7 linked regions of the Homo sapiens genome follow. The protein of the gene in region 3 purifies or fractionates together with the protein of the main gene of each other region. This does not show direct contact. Each region holds a gene or a part of one and is shown on either strand. Other genes may lie near its edges. The genes, in order: GM2A, ACO2, ASB9, AKR1B1, GGCT, IL36G and A2ML1.

Region 1 (3,560 bases), on a different chromosome or scaffold from region 3:
ATGGCTCATTGCAACCTCTGCCTCCCGGTTTCAAGGGATTCTCCTGCGTCAGCCTCCAGAGTAGCTGGGATTATAGGCGTGCACTTTTTTAGTAGAGATGGGGTTTTGTCACATTGGCCAGGCTGGTCTCAAACTCCTGACCTCAGGTGATCTGCCCACCTTGGCCTCCCAAAGTGCTGGGATTACAGGCGTGAGCCACCAGGCCCGGCTCCCAATATTTCTCGTATATATATATATATTTATTTATTTATTTGGTTCAGTTCTTTTTTCAGGATATGTGCATATCAACTATTAGATGAAAGCTCTTCTGACCACTTGCTAGGGAGAAGAGCCGATGAGGGACAAAGGGTCTCAGGAAAGGTTGCAACTTGACCCAGGTCACAAAGCTAGTTGTTAGCATGGACAAGGCTGGTATGTTTATCTTGGGGTTTGGTTCCTGAGCTTTTACTGGCAGGGAGGTAGACTTGGTGCTTGGTGTATTTGCAGGGGAGGGGAGAGGAGTGCTGCAGATTCAGTTCCAGAACTCTCCCCTTGCCCAGCAGACCTGCTTATGAGAGCTGCCCAGAACTAAGCTCTGGATGAGCCTGGAGCACTCTTGGGGTCCATGGGGCTTCAACCCCTTGTTACACTGAGGCCCAGAGGAGAGTGACTGCCCAAACCCAAGAAAGCAACTGCCATCCTCTCTTTCTCTGATCTTGCTGTAGTGAAATTTCTTTAATCAAAAGTCAAATCTGGGACCTGGCTGGATTTGACTCCAGCTGCAATTTTTAAAAGTTAAATGTCCCGGATTCCATGGCCGTGGGTAAGACTGGGGCCTGCTCAGGAGCTCCCTTTTCTCTTTTGACTTGCTCCATGGGATCTGGCATAGTTAATAACTCCCAATGCCCAGCCCTCCCTCAAGTTCCAGCCTGTGGGACCCTGGTTTTCCCATCCTCAAGAACTGTAAATTGTCACTGTATTTGTCATATGTACTTATTCCAGCCTTTCAGGCCTGGTAACTTGGCTCCCCCAGCACCCAAAGTCATATACATGCCTGGGCTCATTACTCCACCCTGCTTCCTTTTCTGAGTCATAGTAGCAAATAGATTGAGAATAAGAAATGAGCCATCATTTGTAATTTCCAAATGGTAGGTGTGGCTGCTGCCTTAGAACCCTCTGTTGACTTCAGTTCAGTACACTTCTTGTGTCGTGCTGGTCCTGTGCTGGGGGCAGGAGTAGAGATGAGGGAGCCACTACCTCTTCTGGTAGATGCAGCCCTACAGGTTCCAGCCTGGTGGGAGGAGCCCTGGCAGGACTTGTCCCCCTACTGGCCTCCTCCACTGTGTGTTCTCACTCAGGGCATAACTGGCTCAAACATTTTCATTAGGGTATTGGCGACACAAGGAGAGAGTATTGGCTAAGGAAAAAGGCAGGGCAGAAGTCATGGAGGAGGAAGCTTTTGATTTCAGGCACTGTGCAAAGTGCTGGTATTTCCCTCTCAATGGGACCTGTGAGAGAGGTAGGCACTCTAAAATATCCCACTTTTGAAGATGAGGCGAGGCTGGATACAGTGCTTCATGCCTGTAATCCCAGGACCTTGGGAGGCCGAGGCGGGTGGATCATTTGAAGTCAGGAGTTTGAGACCAGCCTGACCAACATGGTGAAACCCCATCTCTACTAAAAATACAAAAACATTAGCCAGGCGTGGTAGCTCATGCCTGTAATCTCAGCTACTCAGGAGGCTAAGACAGGAGAATCGCTTGAACGCAGGAAGCAGAGTTTGTAGTGAGCCAAAATCACACCACTATACTCCAGCCTAGGTGACAGAGTGAGACTCTGTCTCAAAAAAAAAAAAAGAAGGTGAGGGAATGGCCACTGAGAGAGATTAAGTAACTCACCCAAGGGCACAATAAAACTAGGAAGTGGCAGAACTAGCATTCCAACCTAGGCCCTCTGACTTTTCCTAGGCAGCGGGGTAGAAGCAGGTTTGATGAGAGAGAGGAGGGCTGAGAGGGTGCTGTGTGGCCAGTGGTGGAGATAATGGGTATGTCTTAGGAGCAGATGAGGCCAGTGAGAGGAGCAATTAGAATTTGTCCACTCAGACCACAGGATGTGCTAACTTCTTTGTTCTTTCTGGGCCTGGAGGAAGGCAGCTAATATCTCGACATCTGGGGCATCTGGAAGACTTGAGTCCGTGGCCTGGGAACCAGCCTGAGCCCAGCAGCCTCTTAGGACATAAGTGCCCATCCAGGATTTAATCTCTTAGAAACAGAGCCCCAAATAAAGTGAGCCTAGAGGCTGGGATTCCTAGAATGCTAGAATGTCAGAGCTGAAAGGGATCCTAAAAATGTGATTTCCTGCCATAACACGCACAAGGAATCAGATATTTGAGAAAGCTAATTTCCTGGTGCTCTTTCCTGAGAGTTTTCCCTTGATACCTTTGGTGGGTGATGGACATGGTTCTAAAGCCAACTCATTTGGCACTAGAGGCAACTAACACATGGTGACTGTTCAGCGCGTGCCCGGCACAACTGGGATGTCCACCATGAAATTTGGGCCACTTCCTCCTGGTCAGCTTCAGCCTCCAAAACGGGAGCAAAGTCATGACAGTATGGAGGTGTGAAGTGTGTTCTAGAGCTTCTCACCCAGCCCTACTCCAGGCACAAGAGTCTTTTGTAGCTTTCCCGGCTGAGTCAGGGAGCCCGTACTCCTTGAGGCAGCTCCATCTGTTGTAACCTAGCTATGATTTTATACCAGTCTCAAGGTGATCTTTCTATACATTCCTATTGTTCTTAATTCTGTCTTCTGTGGCTGTACGGAGAAAATGTGACCCAAGAGCAGCCAGTTGGGTTCATTTTGGTAACCAGCTCATCAGTTGGTAGTAACTACCTGAAGTCCTATGCAGAAAAGGATTTTGGGGCCACGACTGGGCTCAGAAGGAAAGCCCAGGAAACAATGCCACAGTTAACCAATTAGCAGTTAGATGACAAGTGCATTTCAATGCAAGTGTTAGAGCCAATCAATGGGTAGTGACTACCTAAAGAATTCTAAGACTATGGACTGAGCATGATGGCTCACGCCTGTAATCCCAGCACTTTGGGAGGTGGAGGTGGAAGGATTGCTTGAGGCCAGGAGTTCCAGACCAGCCTGGGCAACAAAGTGAGACCCCATCTCTACAAAAAATACAAAATTAGCTGGGTGTGGTGGCATGTGCCTGTCTGTGTTTCCCACCTACATGGGAGGCTGAGGCAGGAGGATCGTCTGAGCCCAGGAGTTTGAGGCTGCAGTGAGTGCAGTGAGCCATGATACAAAAAAAAAAAAAAAGAATTCTAAGTCTATGTATAGTTCAGTGTAGGGGGAAAATTCACATTTGATTATTAATGTCTGCCATGGGCACAATAATACACTATACTCACACATGGGCCACAATGTTGCCATTCCTAGAACAGACTATCTCTAAGATCTCATCCAGTTAAAAATTCTATGATTAAAATATATTGCTGCTTTTTTGAAGACAGAAGAGCTGGTATGTTTGCCCTGGAATTTACACTTATAACCTTTTTCAAACCTTTGTTTTATTT
Region 2 (3,560 bases), on a different chromosome or scaffold from region 3:
TTTTGGCTCTGATGAGGAAGGGAGGGGTGGGGCCTCCGGGGAAATGGGGTCTAGGAGGAGGAGGAGCTGTGAGAGGCCAGTGGCAGTGACCCGGTCTCTGTTCTTGAAAACTGACAGATACTCCTGTCTATGTCTGGAGCTAATGGGCAAAGTCTTAGTGTCATAGTTGGGTAGCCAGGCATCCCAGGCCTGAGGTGTGGAGGGTTGTAGATGGCGGACAGGGTGGACAGGTGAAGGGGATGCTGGTCCTGATTCCCTGTGCCTTAGTGGGGCTGAGGGCACAGAGGGAAGTAGCGAAATCTAGCTGTGAACTTGGTCACTCTCCTGAGCCTGTTTCTTGGTTGTTGTTAAATGGCTTTCTTGGTTGTTGTTGTTGTTAAATGGCAGGAATGATGAGATATGCATGTTGCGGGGACTTAGTAGGAATTACGATGCTGGGAAAGCCAGGATCCTTTGAAAAGAACCAGCGCTGCCCTCTTGTGATGTTGTCATTCACTTACTCATCAAGTAATTGTGGAGCACCTAACAAGTGCCAGGTGCTGCAGGAGGTGAGGAGGTGGTGCAGTGAACAGGACCCAGCAGTCCCCACCCAAGTGGAACGTTGAGGTCCTGAGTTCAGACTCCCTGTCCCTGGCCACTGTTGAGGTTGCCACATGGACTGAGAGGGAGAGGCAGGGCGGGAGGAGGCCGTGCAGCTAGCACCAGGCCACCCTTCTGCTCTTCTCCCCACAGACTGAACCGGCCGCTGACACTCTCGGAGAAGATTGTGTATGGACACCTGGATGACCCCGCCAGCCAGGAAATTGAGCGAGGCAAGTCGTACCTGCGGCTGCGGCCGGACCGTGTGGCCATGCAGGATGCGACGGCCCAGATGGCCATGCTCCAGTTCATCAGCAGCGGGCTGTCCAAGGTGGCTGTGCCATCCACCATCCACTGTGACCATCTGATTGAAGCCCAGGTTGGGGGCGAGAAAGACCTGCGCCGGGCCAAGGTGAGCAGAAGGTGGCTTTGGGGGTGGGCAAGTGGGCAAGACTGGGCGAGAGGCCTCACCCTCACACTGGAGCAAACCAGGGCATTGCCTCCAAATTCTCACACCTCTTTGGATTGGTCTGCTTTTAAAACTTGATTTTACTTGTTTCTCTTTCTAAAAATAGCACTTGCTCATTATGTTAAAAAATACAGAGGAAGCCTAAAGAAAGAAAAAATCATCCTTGACCTTACCACACTGCAGGTCCTTTTTCTGTCCTGTTGGAGGATGATGTGGATCCTGCCAGGTGCTCTGGAAGGGGCCATGCAGGCCTCCCTGTCTGCCTGAGCAGTGAGGGGTGCATCTTAGCATAGTTTGCCAGCATCCCATTTGCACCCACTCCCGCTCTCCTCTGACCCTCCAAGGACCCTCTCCGGGAGGTAGGCGTGCTAGGGTCACTATTTGTAAATTTGAGGCGGCAGTGGCATCATACTTGAGTTCTGTAACTACATGAGGGCACGATTAGGGCTCAATGCTGATCCTGGCTCCCACTCTGGTGCTCTGTCACTGAGGAGCCTCCTTTGGGGGCCATTCTTCTGTGAGTTTTGCTTAACTACATGGGGGTGGCTGTATGCCATGCTGAAGGCTTTTCCCCCACCCTTCTATGAAATCGAGTTCCTGCTCCTTCTCCCAGGCTCGGCTTGTGGGACCTTTGTGTCAGCCTGCTCTTGGCAACAGCGGGCCTCTCTCTCCCAGCTCTGGGCCTCCCCACTCTCCAGCCCCTGCAGTGGGAGTGGGTCCCCCTCACGGGGAGGGGCGTTGGCAGGAGCTGAATGCTGGCAGGGCTGCGGCCTGTGGGCATGTGATTGAAAGTGCTCCAGCTCCCAGGGTCAGCATGGCTCAAAGCCTCCCAGCCCCATGGGAAACACTCGGGGCGGCGCTCTCACTCAGACCCTCTCTTCCACCCTGGCCCCCTGGTGGTATCCTGGCTCCACAGTGGCTCTTTCCCCTCAGCTGAAAGGACAGTCCTGCCTGCCGGCCGGCGGTTTCCACATTAGCAACAACACTGGTGGGGGTAATAATGTTACAGGAGCTCCCACAGTGCCGGGAACTGCACATGGCCGGGAACGTGGGTCCTCTGCAGCCCTGGGGACAGCTGCCCACAACAGGGCTGCTACCTTCTGGGGCTGGCTTTCTGCTTGCTTTATGGGCTCAGAGTGAATCTTCTGGAGATGAGATGCACACTCATAGCATTCAGAGCTCATTCCCTCATGCGTTCAACAAATTGAACATTCTTTATGTGCCAGGCACTGGGCTAGGTACTGAGGTTCAGTGTGAACAAGTCAGGCAGGGGCCCTGCCTTCAGGGATCTGCTTGTGGGTGTGGACACTAAACAATGGCCGAGGTAGGTAACTGCAGATCTGGGTATGTGTTAGGAAGGGAAAGTGCGGGACTTGGTCAGTATAAAAAAGAGGTCTAATTTAGATGCTGGGGGAAAGAGAGAGCTTCTTTGAGGATGTGACAGATAACCTGAGGACTGAACATATGAGTTGCATTGACTGGAGGAAGAACATGCTAGAAAGAACAGCATTTGCAAAGACCCTGAGCCAGGAAGAAACTTGATGCTTTTGTGGAAGTGAGAGGGGGCCTGTACTGCTGGAGTTCTCTGTGTTTGGAAGAGCGGGTGGTATGAGGTGGGCAGGGGCAGCCAGGAACGCGAGGGCTGTGGGAACGCTATGGTCACCATCCTCAGAGTCCTAGAACAGTTTAAGCGGAGAAAGAATATGGTCTTTTTTTTTTTTTTTTTTTTGAGACAGAGTCTTGCTCTATCCCCCAGGCTGGAGTGCAGTGACACACAATCTCGGCTCACTGCAATCTCGGCTCACTGCAACCTCCGCCTCCTGGGTTCAAGCGATTCTCATGCCTCAGCCTCCCGAGTAGCTGGGATTACAGGCACCCACCACCATACCTGGCTAATTTTTGTATTTTTACTAGAGACAGGGTTTCACCACGTTGGCCAGGCTGGTTTCAAACTCCTGACCTCAGGTGATCCACCCACCTCGGCCTCCCAAAGTGCTGGGATTATAGGTGTGAGCCACCACGCCCGGCCTAGAATGTGGTCATTATTACGTGTATTTGTAAAGTGTCCCTCTGGCTAGGGCTCAGAGGCAGTGACCTGTCTAGGGTCACAGAACCAGAGATGGATCCAGGCTGAGTCCAGGCCGAGACTCTGGCACCAGTCTGGGGTCCTCCCACACCCCTTCCTCACACTTAACACAGACGTGTAGTCACATGCGCCCAGACACGACCACAGCCTCCTGTCCTGGATACCAATTTCATAAGTGACCGATTTGTAAATGAAAAAGCTGATGTATTAATTATTAATTGGAAAGAGACTGCTCTGGAAACCCACGTTCTTTGCCATTCTCTTACCTGGGGGAACCCAGTGGGCCTTCAGAGGGCACACACTGGTCTGGAGTTTCAGTGAAGGGGTGTGTGGTTTGAGTGTATCTCATCAAGGGTCCGAGGGCACTGGCTGAGGTCCCTTCTCTGAAGCATCGCTCTCCCATGCCGGAGGCTGGCAGGTCCCATT
Region 3 (4,287 bases):
TCTCTACTAAAATACAAAAAAAAAACACCCCAAAAAATTAGCCAGGCGTGTGCCTGTAGTCCCACCTAGTCCCTGCCTCTCCCTCCTGAGGCAGAATTGCTTGAACCCAGGAGGCCGAGGTTGCAGTGAGCCGAGATGGTGCCACTGCACTCCAGCCTGGTAACAGAGCGAGACTCCATCTAAAAAAAAAATATATATATATATATAATTATATATATAATTCCTTGTAAAAAGTGGCCGGGCGTGGTGGCTCACGCCTGTAATCCCAGCACTTTGGGAGGCCAAGGCGGGCGGATCACGAGGTCAGGAGATTGAGACCATCCTGGCTAACATGGTGAAACCCCGTCTCTACTAAAAATACAAAAATCAGCTGGGTGTGGTGGCGGACGCCTGTAATCCCAGCTACTCAGGAGGCTGAGGCAGGAAAGTCGCTTGAACACGGGAAGGTGGAGTTTGCAGTGAGCTGAGATTGCTCCACTGCATTCCAGCCTGGGTGACAGAGTGAAACTCCACTTCAAAAAAAACAAAAAAAAAAAAAAAAAAAGAAATTCTTTGTGAAAAGTGATTTTTGATGCCACTCTTGCTTTCCTAGTTCTCCAAACTCATGCTCAATACATCTGCTGATTAATCCAGTTCTGCCTTTGTGGATCTAAATCCCACTCACCATTGAGTACTCTGCTCATTTTATAAGTGAAATTGGATAAATGAATGAATGAATGAGCAGGCTAGTCTACTCAGTCAAAGGGAAGACGTTTTGTGTTTTATTTCTTCCATTTTTACCTTTTTGGTACCTGTATAGTAGATTAATAAACCCTGACTGACGGCCGGGCGTGGTGGCTCACACCTGTAATCCCAGCACTTTGGGAGGCCCAGGCGGGCAGATCACCTGAGGTCAGGAGTTCTAGACCAGCCTGGCCAACGTGGTGAAACCCCGTCTCTACTAAAAATACAAAAATTAGCCGGGTGTGGTGGCGGGCGCTTATAATCCCAGCTACTCGGGAGGCTGAGGCAGGAGAATCTCTTGAACCCGGGAGGCAGAGGTTGCAGTGAGCGGAGATCTCGCCATTGCACTCCAGCCCAGGCGACAGAATGAGACTCCGTCTCAAAAAAACAAAACAAAACAAAACACCCTGACTTCAGGGTCCCTGTTTATTGCCCCTTTGATCAACAGGTGCTGTGGACAGTATACCAGGTATATATTTTTTTCTTTTTTCTTTGATACGGAGTCTCACTCTGTCGCCAGGCTGGAGTGCTGTGGCGAGATCTAGGTGCACTGCAACCTCCGCCTCCCGGGTTCAAGTGATTCTCCTGCCTCAGCCTCCCGAGTAGCTGGGATTACAGGCACGTGCCATCACACCCAGCTAATTTTTGTATTTTAGGTAGCGACGGAATTTCATCATGTTGGCCAGGATGGTATCCTGACATCGTGATCTGCCCGCCTCGGCCTCCGAAAGTACTGGGATTACAGGCGTAAACCACCGTGCCCCGCCTATATATACAGGCCTGAACCCGGGAGGCGGAGGTTGCAGTGAGTCGAGATCGCGCCACTGCACTCCAGCCTGGGCCACAGAGCAAGACTCCGTCTCAAAAAGAAAAAAAAATTAATAAATAATAAATACAGCAATTCAGCAGGGCTGCTGCAACACCAGCTTTCCCAGCTCTGGGTGCTGGGGCTTGTCTCCGTCACAAGCCCCCAAGGATCTCAACAGGGTGAACAACAGTTGCAGAAAGTGAGCTGTTGCCTTCACCCTCACCCTGCTGCTCCCTTTGCTCTCCGAAAGTTACGAACTTTGAGTTTCCTTCCCGATAAACTCCAAGGTTTCCTCACTGATTGGTCTCAGTTTGGGAAAGGACGTGACATCAGCAAGTTTGCAGACTTGGGGCTGGAGAGTTAACCAGTATATTACTAACCAATATACTATTATTTATAAGAACCTGTGTGCAAATGCCTAAACCCATTTTTCAGAATCCTTTCAGCCAACAGGCACCTGCTGAATGCTCACCGAAGTGTGTATTTGTGGGATTCTGTACATTAGCACAGACACCACTTGACAGATGAGAACAATACCTGTAAGATGATTCTCCAATGTTTTAAGTAAAACAAAGTCTCTTTTGTCTCTTTTGAAAGTGACTCAATCAGTGCTCAATGTTTGAACATCTTTATAAACCCTGCCCCACCTAAATGCCAAACACCTAAGACTTACAAATTAAAAAGTTTTAGCATTAAAAATTTTCCTATTTATAAGTAACTTTCAAACCTCCAATTTAATAAATAATGCATTTGACCCACAAAGAATGATTCCTGGGAGCTGAAATTTTCACTGGAGAATAATTTGTGACAATTGAATTTGTCTTGTCTGTAGGATTCTGCAGAAAGAAGTATACACATTTTTGAACAGCTGTGTAAAGAATATATACCAGTGAGCTGTGGACATCTGCCCAGTAACAGCCCCATGGACACCTCACACAGAGCCACTGAAACTGCCCAACCCTCCTCTCCTAAGCACATTAGCCAACCTCCCCAGGGCTGATTCCACTGCCCCTATGACTCACCGCCCATCAATGGGTTTGAAAGAAGCCTGATGCCAGGAAAGTCCCTTGGCCCCGCGGGCTTGCTCCCATCCATGCCCCCTTGTTTGCCATCCATGATGCTCTCTCCTAAGCGAGCAAGCTCTGCGCTCCACTTCAGTTGCTCAGCAAAGTCCAAACTCCATGCTCCCCCTGCTCCTGAAAAATTCCAGTTCTGTGGCTGGCTGAGCTGCACACGTTCTGGTCAAATGGTCTGCAGCAAAGCACAGAGCAGGCAGGGTAATCTGAGTGCTACCTGTGATCAGAGAGAGGCATGCGCTCGTGTACACACACACACACACACACACACACACACGTTTTACCTAACTGGCTGGAGGCCCGCCAGAGGCCACAAGAACCCTCCAGCCCTAAGTCTGCGAAGTTGCTGATGTCACGTCCTTTCCCAAACTGAGACCAATCAGTGAGGAAGCCTTGGAGTTTATCAGGAAGGAAACTCAGTTTGTAACTTTTGAGAGTGAAGGGAGCAGGGTGGGGGTGAAGGAAACAGCTCACTTTCTGCAACTGTTGTTCACCCTGCTGAGATCCGTTTGTTACATGGTAGCTTGTTATGGAGACAAGCCCGAGCACCCAGAGCTGAGAAAGCTGGTTTTGCAGCAGCCCTGCTGAATTGCTTGCACAGTAACATGCACAGCACGCCCTGGCCATCTGTACATGTGCTTTCAATTGTGCTGGGAGTTTCTTATGGGAAATGTGTCTATATGTTACAAAAAATGTACCTTTGGAAAGAACCATTTGTTCCTTTCAGCTGCAAGAATTTCACTAAATGTCCTACCTCACCCCTCCTCCACTCATTTTAACTTCTAAATAAATAATGAACGGTTGCAATTGGAAAAATGGATTGCTAGGTGGCCTGAGATGTGGAAGAGACCTGCTATCTTTTCATTGTGAATTACTAAAATTTATTTTGTTAACGTTTTGCTGTTTTTGCTTATACAAAACATTAGGGGCCGGGCGCGGTGGCTCATGCCTGTAATCCCGGCACTTTGGGAGGCCAAGGCGGGCGGATCACGAGGTCAGGAGTTTGAGACCAGCCTGACTAACATAGTGAAACCCCGTCTCTACTAAAAATACAAAAAAATTAGCTGGGCCTGGTGGCAGGCGCCTGTAATCCCAGCTACTCGGGATGCTGAGGCAGGAGAATCGCTTGAACCCAGGAGGCAGAGGTTGCAGTGAGCCGAGATCATGCCACTGCACTCTAGCCCAGGCGACAGTGCGAGACTCCACCTCAAAAAAAAAAAAATTTGGATGTACTGTGTCCATGTCTTTTCAGATAAACCCAGTTGCCTCACACCCCTGGGTGCTACTTCAGGCTGACAGGCACCTCTAGACTCCCACCATTCCTCTCTTCCAGGTAGAAGAGGATTTTTCATCCCCATGGGGGAAGGCTCTGAGTTAAGTCTCAAGCATAGACTGGCTGTGAAGTGATTGCAGATTTGTCTTAATGCCAAAGATGAGGCCTAGATGTTTTAGATTTACGGAGTCTCAGTTAAAACATTTGGTGGCTGTTATTAACAGTTTGAGGGGTGTAATTCACGTTTTTAAAGGCATTTATATGCATACACATGTATGCACATTTATCAATTTACATTTTCCACATAAATGTACCTATATTATTCTTTTTTTTTTGAGACAGGGTCTCACTTTGTCACCTGGACTCGAGTGCCATGGTGTCATATCGGCTCACTGCAACTTTCACCT
Region 4 (4,332 bases), on a different chromosome or scaffold from region 3:
TCTGGGGTTCAAGCGATTTTCCTGCCTCAGCCTCCCAAGTAGCTGGGACTACAGGTGCGTGCCACGATGCCGGGCTAATTTTTTGTATTTTTAGTAGAGACGGGGTTTCACCATGTTAGCCAGGACGGTCTCTATCTTCTGACCTCATGATCTGCCCGCCTCTGCCTCCCAAAGTGCTGGGGTTACAGGTGTGAGCCACCGCGCCCGGCCCCAGGGAAAGGTTTTAAGTCATTAAAAAAAAAAAGGAAGTTGATTCCAAGTCCATCCTTATACCATTACTTTGACCCACCATTCCCCGCTGCCCCCACCGTACAATTCTACACCAACCTGATCTCCTCATCCACAGGAATACAAGTGGGCGTTTTCACCATACAGCTATCTCTAAAGTCGTTTTACTTCTTCATATGAATTCAACACATAACTTTTGGATACCTACTCCTATATTTGCCAGGCACTGTGAGAAGTGCTAGAAATAGTAATGAATGAAGCAGACATTATCCAATTTCTCAATGAACTCTGTCTACTGGAATGCATAACCTAAATGTACAGATGTTATGATGTGATGTTATCTTAAACAAATACATAGCTTTTTGGGGCATTGAGTGCTCAAGTGAATAATCTGAAACCCTCTTTCATAAACTTTTACTCCTCAGCCTGGACAACATAGGGAAACCTGTCTCTACAAAAAATTAAAAACAAACTACCCGAGTGTGGTGGCACACACCTGTGGTCCCAGCTACTTGGGAGGCTGAGGTATGAGGACCACTTGAGCCCAAGAGGTTAAGGCTACAGTGAATCATGATCATGCCACTGCACTCCAGCCTGGGTGACACTGAGCCCCTGTCTCAAAAAAAAAAAAATAAACTTTTACTCCTTATTTACCCTAGAGTAGTGATTTTCAAATGATGGGTCACAAAACTAGCTTCTGGAGGTATGACAATAATTTTTGGAAAAATGGAATAGAAAAAAATATTGAAATGCAGCCTACATAGGTTAAGTACTGTTAAGTAATTTTTATTCCAGTTACATGTATATATCTGTGCGTTGCATCATGCTTAGAAAGTATTTGCTATTGCCAAGAAAGCATCCTTCTGCATCCATTCCAAGAGCATAACATGCAACAGATGGAAATTAGCTTGGTGTCATGGTTGTAATTCAATTACAACCTTAGAGACACCACTGGAGTTTTTGGAGGAAACAAATCACGTACCCTGATCATTCTGGCCAAGAAACACTCTCCCTGATGCAAATGACCTTTTTCTTACCTTATATTTACTAATTTTCAACAGCAGGTTTTAGGGTACATGTAAACTCTTCTGTCCTATTTCAAACATCTCACAGTTCACTCAGTTCTTTCTGTTGTTTTCTTCCCTTGTCTGTGTGTAAATATCCAACGCCCAGGCCCATATTCAAATTTTAAGAGAAAAACCTGGGACGTGGGCCTGCCAGATGGTTCACACCTGTAGCTTTGGGAGGCGAGGTGGGAGGAGCGCTTTGAGCCCAGGAATTGGAGATCACCCTAAGCAACAAGCGGAGACTGTCTCTGCGGGGAAGAAAAAAGATTAGCCAGGTGTGGTGGTGAGCGCCTGTAGTCCCAGCTACCCGCAGTGCTGAGGCAGGAGGATCACTTGAGCCCAGGAGTTCCAGGCTGCAATGAACCATGATTGTGCCACTGCACCCCAGCTTGGGCAACGAGACCCTGTCACAAACAAACAAGCAAACAACAAAAACAGAAACTGAGAAACCCAGGTTATGGCTGTGGAATATAATATGCAATACTTAGAAGGTTAAAAATTCTAGGTTTTGCCTCAGCTCCCATACCACCACCTTTGTTGCTCAATTTTCAGATAATCAGGCTCAGGCTATTATTTTTGGTTTTTCATATCATATTATCATTTTTCATATCCTATGATGTTTCATGTCCTATTGTCATTCTCATCCGGCTAGGCACTTCTCGGGGACGCTGTGTGGTGTTGAGGTTTTACAGGGAAAATGCTAACCTTGGCGCCTCCTGAATTATCAACTAGCTACGGGGTGCCCAGATTTTTCTCCCGAGTTCCAGACCCAGGGCACCCCGAGGCGGCGCCTGGCCGAGGAGCTCCGCACTGCGCCTTGTTAACAGCTGGGTCCGGGCAAACTCGCGCCACCTAATTCTCTGCCCTCTACCGGCTTGAGATGCTTATTCCTCAGGGAGGGCAAGAATCGAAACGATTGAGACCAACTATTTACAAGTGAGGCAACCGGGCTACAGGTGCCTCGAGGGAAAGGAGGCTGGGTCTGCGCTCCCACACCTTGCCGACGGCTCCACGTCCCTGTCTGCGCCCGAGGTCCACCGGTCTGTGAAGCCCACTTTCCCCGCCTCCCTCTCGCGTTGTGCCGCTTGGGGCGCCCGCTAGGACCCAAAATGCGGACTGGTGGGCCGCCCATCAAGGGTTGCCCGCGGTAGGGCGGGGGCTCCCGTGAGCTGCTCCCAAACCCCACTCGCAGGATGCTGCCCTGACGCCCAGGGCCAACCCGGGGAGCCAAGGCCCCCGGTCTCTGCAAGGCCGACCCCAGCCCGCTGGGGACCCTGCAAGCCCGCGCGTGGCTCCCAGCACGCCGGGCGTCCGCGGGGCGAGCTGCTCAGGGTCACTCGGGGTCCCTCGCCAATACAGGCCGCGCGGAGAGTGTGAGGCGAGCCCCGGGCCCGCGCCCCCACGAGCACCTACCTTCCAGGTACCCAACCCCAGGATGGGCATCTTGGCGCCGTTGTTGAGCAGGAGACGGCTTGCCATGGCTGCTGCGCTCCCCAGACCCCCGCCCAGTACGGTGCGGCCTTGGCCGCGGCGCGTACCTTTAAATAGCCCGTGAGGTCGGCAGAAAGGGCGCCTGCGGTTGGCGCGCCGCTGCGCGAAGGAGCCTTCTGATTGGTTGCGCTGGGGGTGCCGCGGCGGCCTTCCCCAAGGGTCGGCGGGGATGCTTCTTCCGCCTGGTCCTAGTGGCAGCGGATTCTTTCCGCCCCCAACGCTCGCCCGCGCCCCGCGTGGCAGAAAGGAGTTCCTCAGCTGCTGTATCTGGTGGGAAAGCGAATGCTTTAGCGAAAATAACAGGCATCCCATAAATACATAGACTAGAAATAAGTTTTGGTTTCATTAAGAGCCCAGAAGAATGCCTTTGTTGTCCAACCCCAGTTTGATGCTCTTTGGGAATCTGACGAATACCTTGTCCTTAATCTATGTGAATCATACTGACTACACATATAGTTTACCGCACTTTGTTCTTAGACAAAGGTGCATGCCAGAAAAATGGCTTGCAATCCTTTTGCAAAGCACCTTCACAAAATATGGGTTTGCCCAGACTTTTTGTAGCCTTCTAGATCTCTCTTTGCACCCCACTCTAGGTGTTAGCTGTGTCTGTGCATACTAGGTGTGGTTCAGCAAGCCTTCCACCAAAAGCCAGCATCCTTTGATGTTCTTGAGGTTAGAAAGCCTTGATGGGCTTGATCCAGAACTCTCAGAAGAATTTGGAAAGTAAGGCTGTCCATTCAGAATCAGTAAGACAAATTTCATCAGTCTTTGGAAAGTGAGACTCTATCAAAGCAGTAAGTTCCAGTACAGTAACTTATCAAAACTCTCTAGAGGAAGAAAAGTGAACAGACAGAAAACCACAGAAGAAAAAGTTGACTCTAATATTGTAGCTTCCAGTATTTCAAATTAGAAGGTACAAAATAGTAAATTGATCACCCTAATTGGCAGGTAGAAACACACATTTTTCCAAGATAGCCTAAGAAAAGTCACTTGAAGATCCTTGAAGACAATTTTGGTTTCTTTCCAACAACCTCTCTTCATGATACTCTACCTCACCCCAACTGCTCTTTCTGCTCCATCACCCTCCGATCTTTCCCCTAATTATGCAAGATTGGGAACTCCATCTGCCTGGTAGTGACTCAAGCACCAGGTCTCTCTAAACTCCATGCCGGTGATTTTCCATTTGGTGCTTTCTTTAAAAGTGCTCCCTCCTGGAAAAATTTATACAGAACAGACTAGCCCAGATATTTTTCCATGTAACTTTTGTAAAAATTGTTGCTATTGGGCAAATTCATTTGTCCCCAAGTAATAGAATTTGAACTTGAGCCTAAAGCTGGGAACTTGCTTTGTGTAAAACAGCAAGTTCCTTCCTCCATGAGAGTCCTCTTGACTTGGAGGTTGCTCTGCCAATTGAACCTCCTGGGTCCAAATCCAAAGAGCTAATCTCTTGTGAAAATGATACACCTTGAGTGGCCAGGTTGGTACACACAGAAGGGTCGTCTGTTAGGGACATGGACTCAATATCAGAGGCTTTGTTGTTGGTTTG
Region 5 (4,124 bases), on a different chromosome or scaffold from region 3:
CTGATGCTCGTCATCAGCTGTATTTCAGTTACCCCGAAATACAGCTGCTACTAGAAAGGCGGAATACCTGTTTGTTTTCTTAAATTATCACTTTGCAGAGTAAAGTTGGTGTAATAGTCACCACCAATAGTGTGGCAAATGAAGTTATAGTTTTTTTTTTAATTTGGATTACTCTTTGGGGGGAATGGCTTTTTTATGTTTAAAGTTTCCAATCATTTTTCAGTTTGCAGTCATTGTTATTTTTGATTCTCAAATTGTTCTAATTTTGGCCAGTGGGCAACTTCAGGCTGGTTCCCATGTCCTTTTAGAAGGACCTCGTTCGTCTTGAGAGGCGTCCTGAGCTTCTGACACAAGATGTTCCAAGTTGTCCTCATTCACTCCTAGCTCCTGACCTGGCATCAGTCATTTCTCGAAGGATCACTTGGTACCTTTTAGTGGGGGGTGGTATTTAGAGATTAATAGCTGGGTGTCAAGGATAGACAATGTTCCTATGCCCTTATGTTCATTCAAAAGTTAACAATATAGGTTTTAAAAAATACACCCAGGATGTGTGTGTGTGTGGGAGGGGGTAACCAAAACACAATATAGGGGTTTCTACTGTGACCCTAACTTATATTATGATCCCGATTTTTAAAAAGAGGAAACGGAGACCAGAGGTGCCCAAAGTTACTTGGCTAGTAAATGGCAGCGTCGGGATTTAAGCCCAGGCATGTAACTTCCATGTAACAGGGAAGGGAGTCCCAAGCATTCAGAGGGGCCGCTCCAGCAGGCGACGGGTCCGTGGAAAGGGGTCAGATTGATGACCAGTGCTGGGGGTGCCGGAACCAGCAGAAAGGGTGAACGGACCCGTCCTGCCCGACTCCTCTAGGCCAGGAAGGCAGGACCCGGCGAGCTGCCGGATGAGGGAGCCGTTGATGGAGTCGCCTGGGCCGCTGTTTCGCCTCAGATCTGACCAGAACTTCCTAAGGCACAGAAAGTACCAAAGAACCACACACAAGCACCCCAGAGCGAAGAAACCAGTCACGCGCCACGACCTTCAGCCAGTGTCCATGGGACCCGACCCGCCTGTGAGGAGTGCCTGTCCACCCCTCAATCAGAGGAAGCCTTGAGCAAGGAGGGGCGGGACATCAGTAGGTCGTGTCCAATGAGGAGCCAGCGCCGGATTGCTTCAGGACAGACTATTTCTGAGTCTCGGCGGAAGGCGGAGGGAAGGCCGTGGGGATGGCCAATCAAAGGGGGCGACTCAGGTCGGTGGGGACCGGCAGCCAATCAGGAGAGCGCTCGCTCCTGACTCGACCGGCCCACGCTTCCCGCCAGTCCCCTAACCCTGAGGCTGCCGCGCGGCGGTCACTGCGCCGGGGTAGTGGGCCCCAGTGTTGCGCTCTCTGGCCGTTCCTTACACTCTGCTTCAGGCTCCAGTGCAGGGGCGTAGTGGGATATGGCCAACTCGGGCTGCAAGGACGTCACGGGTCCAGATGAGGAGAGTTTTCTGTACTTTGCCTACGGCAGCAACCTGCTGACAGAGAGGATCCACCTCCGAAACCCCTCGGCGGCGTTCTTCTGTGTGGCCCGCCTGCAGGTGAGTGCCCCCTCCCGCGCTACCCACGCCGGGGCCGGGATGCCCAGAAGGCGCTTCCTCGGGGGCACACGTGGCCGATCGGGCCAGGAATGCAGTTCTTCTTGATGAGGGTACTAGGACGCGGCTTCCGCCTCCTGGGCGGGTCCACCTCCTCCGCTGCGCCCACTGCCCGGCCCTGCCCGGGCCACGGTGCCCTCTCGGGCTGCCTGGAGCTTTCCCCCTCCTGGCCTTTGCACCGGCTGCTCGGTCTGCACCGATTTGGCCTCTCGTCCACTAACTTAACAGATTGCATACAGTTGGTACTTCTGGAGAGTCTTCTCTGACCCGTGTCTGGGAATTGGTTGCCTTCTGTTCTGTACATAACCTTTGTTACAGCACTTCTCACCTGGCATTGTGAAAATCCGTTTACCTGCCTTTCGCTCCTCATCTAAGAGGTCCTGAAAGCTGGGACCATGTCTTATTTGTAATAATGCTGTGTTCAGTTAGGTCAAGGGGCTGCATGAACTATAACCAGTGTTGGTAAATCATTGCTCTTCAGCCCAGTCCATTCATTCATTTAGTACATATTCTTCCGGCACTTAACACTAAGGGTATAAACATGATTGAGTAAAGTGGCTGTTTCGAGGAACTCTCAGTCTGTAGGACAGAGGTGCAATAGATTATGTTCAAAACCTTTTTGACAGCGTCGAATGAGACAAACATGATCTCTGCTAACATCGTGAGTTCTTAGTTGCAAGCAACAGAAACTGGCTGATTTAAGCAAAAAAAAAAAAAAAAAAAAAAAAAAGAATGTGTTGAAAGGCTATTGGAGAGCTCACAGAATGACCAGGAAGGCAGGAGTACAAAGCTGACAAAACGGACAAGCATAAAGGGAGGCACAGCAACTGTAATACAGTGGGCATCACACAACAGAACCAGCCCACGGAGCCTCTTCCACGCCACTGCTGAACTTGGTAAACGTGGATGCTGTATTGTCCACCACCCCCTGCCCTGGACACTGCCTGCCTCTGTACATCCCTGCAGTTCCTGAAACCCAAATGTGTCAGCCTCTCTGGAGTCCCTGCTGTCTTGGGCACTAGCTTCTAATTGAAAGCCCCAGAATGTCCCGATTGGCTAAGTTTTGGCCACGTACCCATGCCGTGATTTTAAGCAAAACTGAGAGAACCAGCTTCTGGCCTTTGAAGCCTCAAAAATGGGAGTCAGGCTCTGATACTCCCTATTCCCAAACTCGTAAGGTAGGGAATTTCCCAACTGTAGGAAGGGAGTCCAAATGCTTACAGTCAGGGCAAGGGGAAGAGATATTAAACAAGGGATTATTCAGTTACAGGTATATGGTCCATCTTAAAAAGGAGGCATGCAAAGTGCAATGGGGCGTATGACCAGGGTACCTGACCTAACCAGGATGCTCAGGAAAGCCCTGCCTGAAAATGTGACTTTTAAGTTGAGACCTGAATGATTGTAGAGGTGGGGAGCACACAAAACAGGGAACAGCATCTTCTGCAAAGGACCTGAAGAAAGAGGAAGCTGGATCTTTCAGTCAGTGTGGCTGGAGTTTAGTAAGGGGAATGTGGCATGAAGACTGGAGATATGTGGAAGGGCCACATCTTCCAGGACCACAGAAGCCAAATAAGACACACTGCAGAACTAAAGCACATGAAAGATAGATTTCTATCTCCAAAAGCCCATTCTGGTCACATGGAAAATAGATTTGAAGGAGGGAAGAGTGAATGTGGAGAGTTCAAGAAGTTTTTGCAGCAATTTATGCCAAAGATAATGAATGGCATCTTGAACTAGGGTGGTGGCAGGGCAGGGTGGATGGATTTGAGAACTAATTTGGAGATAACATTGTTAAAGCATAGTGATTGAGTGTGAAGAGAATACCAAAGATGACTCAGGTTTTTGGCACCAGGTAGATGCAGGTGATGTTTGCAGAGAAAAGAGGAAAATCCGGCTTGGGAGGAGAAAATTTTAAGTTCAGTTTGAACATTTTGAATTTGAAATGCTTGCTAAACAGTCAAGTGAACAGAATAATATTAGCAAACATTTATTAAGTACTTACTGTGTGCTAGGCCCTGTTCTAAGCACTTCTGAAGCTCAGAAGAGAGATCTGGTCTGGGTTTAAAGATGATCAGAATATTTGAAGCCATTGGAGGGGATGAGAATGTCTTGAGCAAATTGCCAAATGAATAGAGAAAATGGCCTAGACCATGGGTGTCCAACCTTTTGGCTTCCTTGGGCCACACTGGAAGAAGAAAAATTGTCTTGGGCCACACATAAAATACACTAAAACTAATGATAGCTGATGAGCTAAAACAAAAACAAAAACAAAAAAAAGGCCCATGCATAATTTTTGTGATGTCCGCCACCACAGGTAAGCAAAAAAGTTCTTGCATCCAAAGGGTTGGACACCCATGGCCTAGACTGAGCCTTGAGCAACTCCAACATTTAAAAATCAGGTAATGGAGGAGGAGTTGGCAAAGGGGATTGAGATCAAGGAACAGCCTGAAAATCAGGAAAGAGGCAGATCAGGAGAAGGTGGTTACCT
Region 6 (4,210 bases), on a different chromosome or scaffold from region 3:
TACCACAGCAATCCCTTAATCTTCTTTGGCTTTCCAACACACGTGTATCTAGTTCCTTTTATTCAATTCCCTTTGTTTGCAATTCCTAGCATGGATTCTGCTTTCAGAGGGATCCCAGTTGGAAATTCAGGCTTAAGGGATTTGGGGGGTCAAATGATGGGAATTTTAGATGCTGTTTTGTGGTGAACATCCCAAGAAAGGAGTTATGTTGACTGATGTGTAATGGAGGGGATTTTTAACAGGGCAATGGAGACTCAAGTGAGGTGGCACTGGCTCAGGTTGACTTTGAACAAAAGTGCACCTGGCATTACCACACTCTTTCCTAGGGTCACAGAAACACTGGAAGCCAAAAGTGATAGAATTGGGGCCATGGCAGGAAAGGACTGTGTTCTTCCAAGGCCAGAAAGGAGATTAGGGTGAAAAGTAAGAGACGTTGAGTCAGGAGACTCTTTGCAGGGCTGGGAAGAGGGGCTCATGGATGAGCTTATCTGGAAGGTTCTGTCTCATTCTTTGTGCTTTTCTTCCTTATAGATGGGTAAACCTGAAGCTGTTAGTGCTTCAAGTCTGTCTCCTAAAACTCACTTCACTCTAGTAGTTAACTTATACCTCAGTAAATTTTTAGGCTTGGCTACAGCAGATAGGATGGGGTGTATAAACAAGATATAAAAATAACTATTACCACTGATCAGGAACCTAGGGCAGAGGGTGGGGGATAAGCTGGCATCTGGGGCTCAGATTTGGGAGAAATCGCTGCCCACCTCTTTACTTCCTTAGGCAGTTCTGGAGTCCACTGCATTTTGAGGGTACCTGAAACTAGGATTGCCTCAGTTAAAAGACCAGTCTGCATAGTCCCTGTGGCTCCCCATGTGGATGGAGCTGAAAGAGTGTTAGGTAGGGGAGCTCTACTGCCTGGCTTTCCATTCAGGTGTGGCCTTAGGTGGGGTAGTTGAGAAATGCCACAGGGACCTTGCCTGAGACGTGTGGCTAATTTTGCTCTTACAGGATGCCTTTAGCCTGACTGCAGAGGGCAAGGCTCCCAGTCCCAGGAGATGGAGTCCCTGACATGAGAGTGCCTGGCATTTCCAGTTCTAGCTCTAGAATGACATGACAGGAGAGCTGAACTCTGGGAAATTCCCTTAGTTTCCCCTTTATGAGAAACCTAGGATCTGTCATCAACCTCATTTCCTTGTGGTTGATTTTGTGCGGATTGGCTCAACACTTATTTCTCAGCGAGCCCGGACAGGTGATACTTGTGCTAATTCTGTGATTTCTTCCTCCGAGCCTCACAGGATCTTCTGGTAGGAGGAGCTGGTTTTCTTTCATGTCATACGTTTCTCATGCCCCACCCAGGAAGCTGGAGCCTCCTTCTCTGCTCATCCAGATAAATGATCCAGGCTCCATTAGAACCCATCACTGACCTTGGAAGCTGCTGGAGCCACGATTCAGTCCCCTGGACTGTAGATAAAGACCCTTTCTTGCCAGGTATAGTCAATAGCTGGAAAACCTCTTCTCCCTCCCTCTGGAGCCTTTCCTCTCATCTGTGCTTTGGGCTTAATGAAGGGAAGGGCCACATCAGGCTGGCTCTGTGCTTTGTCCTATGTGTGGCTGCTTCTTACTGGGGAGTTGCTGGGATCCTGGCAGAGTGGCCCTGGCATGGGACCCTCCCCTGCTCCTAGGCAAAAACAATGCCGATGAAGGGGTGGAGGCTTCAGAGAAGAGGAGTCAGGGCATCAGGTGCCTGTGGGTTATTTAAGGTCAAATTTTATGCCTGGCCTTCGAACTCCTAGGGGAGACACTACCATACTATCTGGATCTCCAGGTGGAGGAAAATTCTACCTGTTCTCCCTTTGCTGATGCTTCCTTCAAGTTTCGTCCCAGATGTGGCTCAGAACTTCTGCCCAGAGCTTCGTGTCAGGCCAGGTTTCCCAGCTCCCTGTCTAGAATGAGGGCCTGTGGAGCTAGTGTCCTGGAAGGTCTTGGAAACATCTCTTGTGGTTCATCTGTTCTATGTCTGCTTTCACAGGTGCTGAGACAACCACACTATGAGAGGCACTCCAGGAGACGCTGATGGTGGAGGAAGGGCCGTCTATCAATCAAGTGAATCAAATGCTGTTGGGATGGGGCTCTGGAGGCTTAGGCCCTCTGCACTCACGCTATCTCCTGTGGAAGCCCCAGCCTTCTCTGCTCCTCTCTGTACACTGCCCTTCCCACCTGGTGCTGCCCACCTACCACTGGGCCCTGGGCTTCTGGAGGGTGGGAGCTATTGCTTAGTCACTGATCCAGCTCCAGTCCCCAGCACCGGGGCCAAGCACAGAGTAGGCACAAAAGAGGGTAGCTGGGCCTTGGCACACAGGTTCTGTGAGACTGCTCATTGCCCTCTGTCTTGATAGTTTGCCCTCTTAAACCAGTGACTTCCCTTGGTAGCCCTTGCCTTCCTCACCAGAGCTCACAACTTCACTAGAAAGAAAGGCTAGGCTGATGGGTGATGTGAGTGCTGTCAGTTTGGGGATGCAAACCCCACACCTTCCTTACAAAATGGCCTGGGTTAGATACTTTTCTCCTGGGTCTAGTAAAGCAGCCTTGATTATAATATTTCTTCATTTTTTTCTCTATCCCAAAATCAGTGTGTAAACCTATTACTGGGACTATTAATGATTTGAATCAGCAAGTGTGGACCCTTCAGGGTCAGAACCTTGTGGCAGTTCCACGAAGTGACAGTGTGACCCCAGGTGAGTGGTCACCCTGTGCCTTCCCCACTGTTTGCACTGCTGTGGCTGGGAAGCTGGCATCAGCCTTTTGTAAAAGTGTGACTTTACAATGGGGCCCACCAGGAGTGGGGAGAATTTCACACCTAATTGGGAAGAGAAGTCAGGGAGAACTTTGGGTTCCACTAAGATGAAGAAGCCAGAGATGGTGGAGGAGCCTCCAAGGGAATAGGAAAGCTGCTGTCAGTCATCTGAAGCCCTGTCTTATGGAAGACTAGTAGCTTGTTCTGCATGACTTCAGGGTGTCCTAAAATGACTAAATGGGTGAATACCACAGAAAGGCAGGTTTCAGCATCACATTGGGAAAAACTTGCAAAAGGGACCAAGCTCTCCAAGAATCAGAGGGGCTGCTTGATGTAGGAGCTCCCCATCTCCATGTGCTCAAGCAGAGGCGTGAGAATCTCAAGAGCATACTCTGTTGTCTGCTTAGCTCTCTGTGTTTGCTCATTTACTAGGGCAGTGATTGGCACATGGTATGAATGAATGAATGAATGAATGAATATGGGGGTTGGCCATTTGGTGGGTCTAGTTGGGATTACACTCTTCAGCTCTCTTCCAGATCCACTTGAGGATACTGCCCTGCTAAATCAAATAATCTTTCTGACTTCAAAAGGAAACTGATACCATCTCTCCTCTTATCTTTACAGTCACTGTTGCTGTTATCACATGCAAGTATCCAGAGGCTCTTGAGCAAGGCAGAGGGGATCCCATTTATTTGGGAATCCAGAATCCAGAAATGTGTTTGTATTGTGAGAAGGTTGGAGAACAGCCCACATTGCAGCTAAAAGTGAGTAGCTAAGAAAAATATTTAAAAAGCCTTTCCTTTTAGAAGTGTTTGGTTGAATACCTAATTTTAGAATTAAAAAAGAAATAGTCTCATCTTCCTAAGCATATTTATTCCCAGCCTCTTTTAAGTTATGTGCATGCAATACACTTTTCTTTTTATTCTGGCTGTCAGTAGTTAAGGTCCTTGTTTTGCTTTTTTTTTTTCCAAGCCAAACTGCATCCAGCTTTATTAAAGATACTTTCCATAAACATTCATGGTATTTCAGGCAGGATATGGGCAGACAATTGTTAAGAGTATGCAGCAAACTTCAAACTCCCTTGTTCAAAGGACTACCAAAAATCAGAAAGCCACTATAAAACTCAATGAAGTCTTCATCTGATGCTCTGAACAGGGAGAGTTTAGAGTGAGAGTTGACATTTCACATTTAGCATGTGGTTTAAACTTTTCACAAGCCAACCCTGACTTTCAGGAAGTGAAATGAAAATGGTAGAATTTATCTGAAGATCCACGATCTAGAAACAGAACCACTGCTCTTTTGACAGGTGCCATCTCAGTGGCATCACTGGAAAGTCCAGAGTGCCTGACATACTGGTAACCAATGATTGAGGGCCAGGTCCCAACAGATGTCTGGCTTAAAGGAGTTAAATCTATGCTGAAA
Region 7 (3,560 bases), on a different chromosome or scaffold from region 3:
AAGGAGAGAGAGAAGGTAGGGGTACAGAGAAGAAGGGACCCTCTAAGAGTTATCATCATTCACTGAACAAACACGTATTAGCTATCATTTAATAAGTACCTACTATGGGCCGGGCGTGGTGGCTCACGCCTGTAATTCCAGCAGTATGGGAGGCCGAGGAGGGTGGATCACCTGAGGTCAGGAGTTCGAGACCAGCCTGACCAACATGGACAAACCCTGTCTCTACTAAAAATACAAAAAAAAAAAAAAAAAAAGTACCTACTGTGTGTCCTGGGAAGACCACAGTAAATCAAACTCGGTCTCTACCCTCAAAAAAACTCACAGAGGAGCAAACCATTACAACACATTACAATTTTTATTCATTATAAACAATTTTAATACAGTACTACAATGTCATACTGGATATGTACGAGGTGCTAGGGGACACGGAGAGGCACATAAGCTATCTAAGAGAGTTCAGGGCTTTTAAGAAGACATGTCACTGAGCTGATGAGTGATGTGACAAAACTTATAACACTTAGGATCAATCTCTTAAGCTCCTCTACCACTGCATGTACGTTCCTCACCCTCCAAATCACCAAGTTTCTCTAAAACACAGTTCTGACACTCTTTTCCAAGTTGTCACTGACCCCTTCATATACTTCCCAAGCCAGTGAACCTGACATAAGTGACTCATTAACATCTGCATTGTAGCCAACAAGCTCAATTCAATCTATAAATGTGTCCTGAATGTCAACTATGTTGCAGGAACTGTACTAGGAACACAAAAGAAAAAGATGTGGCCCTTCCTCTTCAGGAGCCCCCAACACAGTGTGGAAGACAGATATAGACAGTGAACTCTAATACAATAAGATAAGTGCTATGTCAGACTTACGAATAAAATAGACAAAACAGAGACACTGTGACTGCAAAGGATCTCAATAGAGGGTGAGGGAGTAAAGAAAGAGCCTAACATTCATAGGGCTCCTACTACATGCTAGATATTGTGCTGGGGACTTTATATTGCATTTAATCTTTACACCAGTCTGAGAGGTAGGTTATTATCACTGTTTTACAGAAGAGGAAAGAAGGCCCAGAACTGTTCACTAACTTGTTCAGGGTCACATGGCTATTAAATGACAGGTTAGATATGATTTCTACGTTCATGCTTTTCAACCCACTTCCTCCCTTGCCCCAAACAGTAAGTGTGCTGCCTATTGTAAATATGGTTGTATCTTCCCTAAACTATACCCAAATTCCTCAGTTTTGAAAATGGTTGCTGCAAATATTCTGTTTTCCCTTCACCCAATTTATAGACTGTCTAAACCTAAAATCAAGCATCAGCGACCTTACCTTCTTCCTACCCTGACTCTCTTCCATTTTTAACTAGAGTACAAGTCTAATCCCATCTGTACTGTTGCCTACACTGTATTTCCCTCCTATATAAAATACGCTCTTTTTCCTTCATCACTTGTTATTAGTTACACTCTCCGGATAGGTCCGTATGTCCCGCCCCACTCCACACCTTTGCAGCCTCCATTCGCCTTTTCCTTTCTGAGTCAAGAATCTCTAACTGCTTACCCAGAACCGTAACATAAGCCTTGGTCGAGTCAGGAACAATGTCCACTGGGAGCTCCAGGGAGACAGATTCAGATGCCACCTTTCCTGTGAGATGCAGAAAAAAAGGTGACACAATAGAAGATGGGGAATGGCAGGGGTTCTCAAGACAAAATTTTAGAAGAACTTTCTATAATCCAGGGATTTCTGTACTCGGTGCTTTCTCTGGGATGCAGAAAGCACTGGGTACTATTCATAGTGATCTTGCTGAAAATAAATTCCACAGAGAGTCATCATCGTGCTGCACACTTTCTCTTCTTCCTCCTGCCTCCCAGTTAATCAGCCCCATGAGGAATGGCACTTCAGACTCTCCTATTCCTTCTGGTACTATGCATTCCTCCTTTTGCCTATGAAAATCTCCTGCTGCCGGGTGCAGTGGCTCACGCCTGTAATCCCAGCACTTTGGGAGGCCAAGGCAGGAGGATCACAAGGTCAGGAGTTCGAGACCAGCCTGGCCAATATGGTGAAACCCCATCTCTACTAAAAATACAAAAATTAGCCAGGCATGGTGGCATGTACCTGTAGTCCCAGCTACTCAGGAGACTAAGGCAGTAGAATCACTTGAACCCGGGAGGCAGAGGTTGCAATGAGCTGAAATCGTGCCACTGCAATCCAGCCTGGACGACGGAGCGAGACTCCGTCTCAAAAAAAAAAAAAAAATGAAAAGAAAATCTCCTGCCCTCTAAGGGAATTCTCACCACCAATCCTGCTCTGAGTCCACCCACCTTTTGGGCACAGCAATGAGCTGTGTGTCTTCTCCACCAGGACTCCCTCAGGCTGCGATGAAGAGAGACACAGATAAAAACAACAAAGATGAACATCAGGAGGGATGGCACTAAAGGAAAGGGAAGGGAGGCCCCTCGCTGTGCCCCCAGGGCTTCCCTCAGAACTGCAGACAAGAGCTTCTCACTGAAGCTCAGAAGAACTCTGCGTCAACCCAAGGATGGGCCCTTTCTGTAAAGTTCTTTCTGGGCAAGTGCTAGAGCCAAAGACACATTTAGGCAACTTCTAAGAGGCAAGATTGACAATGGGCTTCATGATGGGACGAAAAAGGCAGCTATTGATGAAGACAGACATTTTAATTAGGTAAACTAACATTTGTTGAGTGCCTATGAGGTGCCGGGTTTTAGGTGCTTTCATAGGCCGTGGGTGTGGATTAGGCAAATGTTCAAGGGGCCAGGGAAGGAGAAAGTTGAAGCTGCCTGGTTGGACTGGAGTATGGTTGCTGTGAGAGACTAACTCACAGCAAGACGAGATGCTGAGCATCCCTCGGTTGGTTGCTGTCTCTACCTCTGAAGAAAACTCACTTTGACGAGAACTGGCTTGATGAGCGTGTCACTTCGGCCCTTTTGGGGAACAAACCCCTTCTGGCCCCCACATGGTTCATTGCTGTCCAGAATCTTTGTACTAATAGTAAAGTTAATGTGACCTGAGAGAAAGAAGAAGGGAAGCCATTAGCCCTATTGCCAGAGGTACCAGTGAGGTCCATTCCCATTTGGATCAGCATTTCTGAAACTTTAATGGGGATCTTGCAACAGTGCAAACTCTGCTGCCATAGACCTGGGGTGGGGCCCATATTCTGCATTTCTAACAAGCTCCCAGGTGATGCCAGAGAGGCTAGTCCAGTGTGGTAGGTAACCTCTAAGGGCCCTCAGAGATCCCTGCATCCTGATATTTACATCCATTGAGTGTGAGCTGGATTGAGTGACTCGCTTCTGTTAAAGAGAACAGGGTGAAAGTAATGACTCTTCTGGGATTAGGTTACAAAAAAGACTGCAGCTTCCATCTTGGGTGCACCCCTTTTCTCAAACTGCTTGCTCTGGGGAAGACAGCTGTTGTGTGATGAGGCAGCCCAGCAGAGAGATTCATGTGATGAGATACTGAGTGAGGCCCCTAGCCAAAAGCTGAGGTCAAGAACTGTGTCCTTCAGTCTAGCAGCCTGTAAGGATCAGAGACTTTGGGAT

Evidence for each region.
Region 1: the proteins of ASB9 (region 3) and GM2A purify together in Homo sapiens (co-immunoprecipitation; one large-scale study listed by IntAct). This does not show direct contact.
Region 2: the proteins of ASB9 (region 3) and ACO2 purify together in Homo sapiens (affinity purification with mass spectrometry, with the first as the bait; one large-scale study listed by BioGRID). This does not show direct contact.
Region 4: the proteins of ASB9 (region 3) and AKR1B1 purify together in Homo sapiens (affinity purification with mass spectrometry, with the first as the bait; one large-scale study listed by BioGRID). This does not show direct contact.
Region 5: the proteins of ASB9 (region 3) and GGCT purify together in Homo sapiens (co-immunoprecipitation; one large-scale study listed by IntAct). This does not show direct contact.
Region 6: the proteins of ASB9 (region 3) and IL36G purify together in Homo sapiens (co-immunoprecipitation; one large-scale study listed by IntAct). This does not show direct contact.
Region 7: the proteins of ASB9 (region 3) and A2ML1 purify together in Homo sapiens (co-immunoprecipitation; one large-scale study listed by IntAct). This does not show direct contact.

What each region holds. Positions count from the first base shown.
Region 1 is NC_000005.10:151,263,160-151,266,719, forward strand, and holds part of GM2A (ganglioside GM2 activator isoform 1 precursor), read left to right. Parts: intron 1-3,560.
Region 2 is NC_000022.11:41,507,059-41,510,618, forward strand, and holds part of ACO2 (aconitate hydratase, mitochondrial precursor), read left to right. Parts: intron 1-732; coding exon 733-991; intron 992-3,560. UniProt on the Homo sapiens protein: Catalyzes the isomerization of citrate to isocitrate via cis-aconitate.
Region 3 is NC_000023.11:15,267,228-15,271,514, forward strand, and holds the start of ASB9 (ankyrin repeat and SOCS box protein 9), read right to left. Parts: upstream 2,857-4,287; 5' UTR 2,648-2,856; coding exon 2,554-2,647; intron 1-2,553. UniProt on the Homo sapiens protein: Substrate-recognition component of a cullin-5-RING E3 ubiquitin-protein ligase complex (ECS complex, also named CRL5 complex), which mediates the ubiquitination and subsequent proteasomal degradation of target proteins.
Region 4 is NC_000007.14:134,456,289-134,460,620, forward strand, and holds the start of AKR1B1 (aldo-keto reductase family 1 member B1), read right to left. Parts: upstream 2,813-4,332; 5' UTR 2,775-2,812; coding exon 2,709-2,774; intron 1-2,708. UniProt on the Homo sapiens protein: Catalyzes the NADPH-dependent reduction of a wide variety of carbonyl-containing compounds to their corresponding alcohols.
Region 5 is NC_000007.14:30,502,024-30,506,147, reverse strand, and holds the start of GGCT (gamma-glutamylcyclotransferase), read left to right. Parts: upstream 1-1,318; 5' UTR 1,319-1,438; coding exon 1,439-1,579; intron 1,580-4,124. UniProt on the Homo sapiens protein: Catalyzes the formation of 5-oxoproline from gamma-glutamyl dipeptides and may play a significant role in glutathione homeostasis. Induces release of cytochrome c from mitochondria with resultant induction of apoptosis.
Region 6 is NC_000002.12:112,976,597-112,980,806, forward strand, and holds the start of IL36G (interleukin-36 gamma), read left to right. Parts: upstream 1-1,409; 5' UTR 1,410-1,482; intron 1,483-2,023; 5' UTR 2,024-2,042; coding exon 2,043-2,097; intron 2,098-2,624; coding exon 2,625-2,729; intron 2,730-3,412; coding exon 3,413-3,552; intron 3,553-4,210. UniProt on the Homo sapiens protein: Cytokine that binds to and signals through the IL1RL2/IL-36R receptor which in turn activates NF-kappa-B and MAPK signaling pathways in target cells.
Region 7 is NC_000012.12:8,853,593-8,857,152, reverse strand, and holds part of A2ML1 (alpha-2-macroglobulin-like protein 1 isoform 1 precursor), read right to left. Parts: intron 3,026-3,560; coding exon 2,904-3,025; intron 2,374-2,903; coding exon 2,322-2,373; intron 1,645-2,321; coding exon 1,561-1,644; intron 1-1,560. UniProt on the Homo sapiens protein: Is able to inhibit all four classes of proteinases by a unique 'trapping' mechanism. This protein has a peptide stretch, called the 'bait region' which contains specific cleavage sites for different proteinases.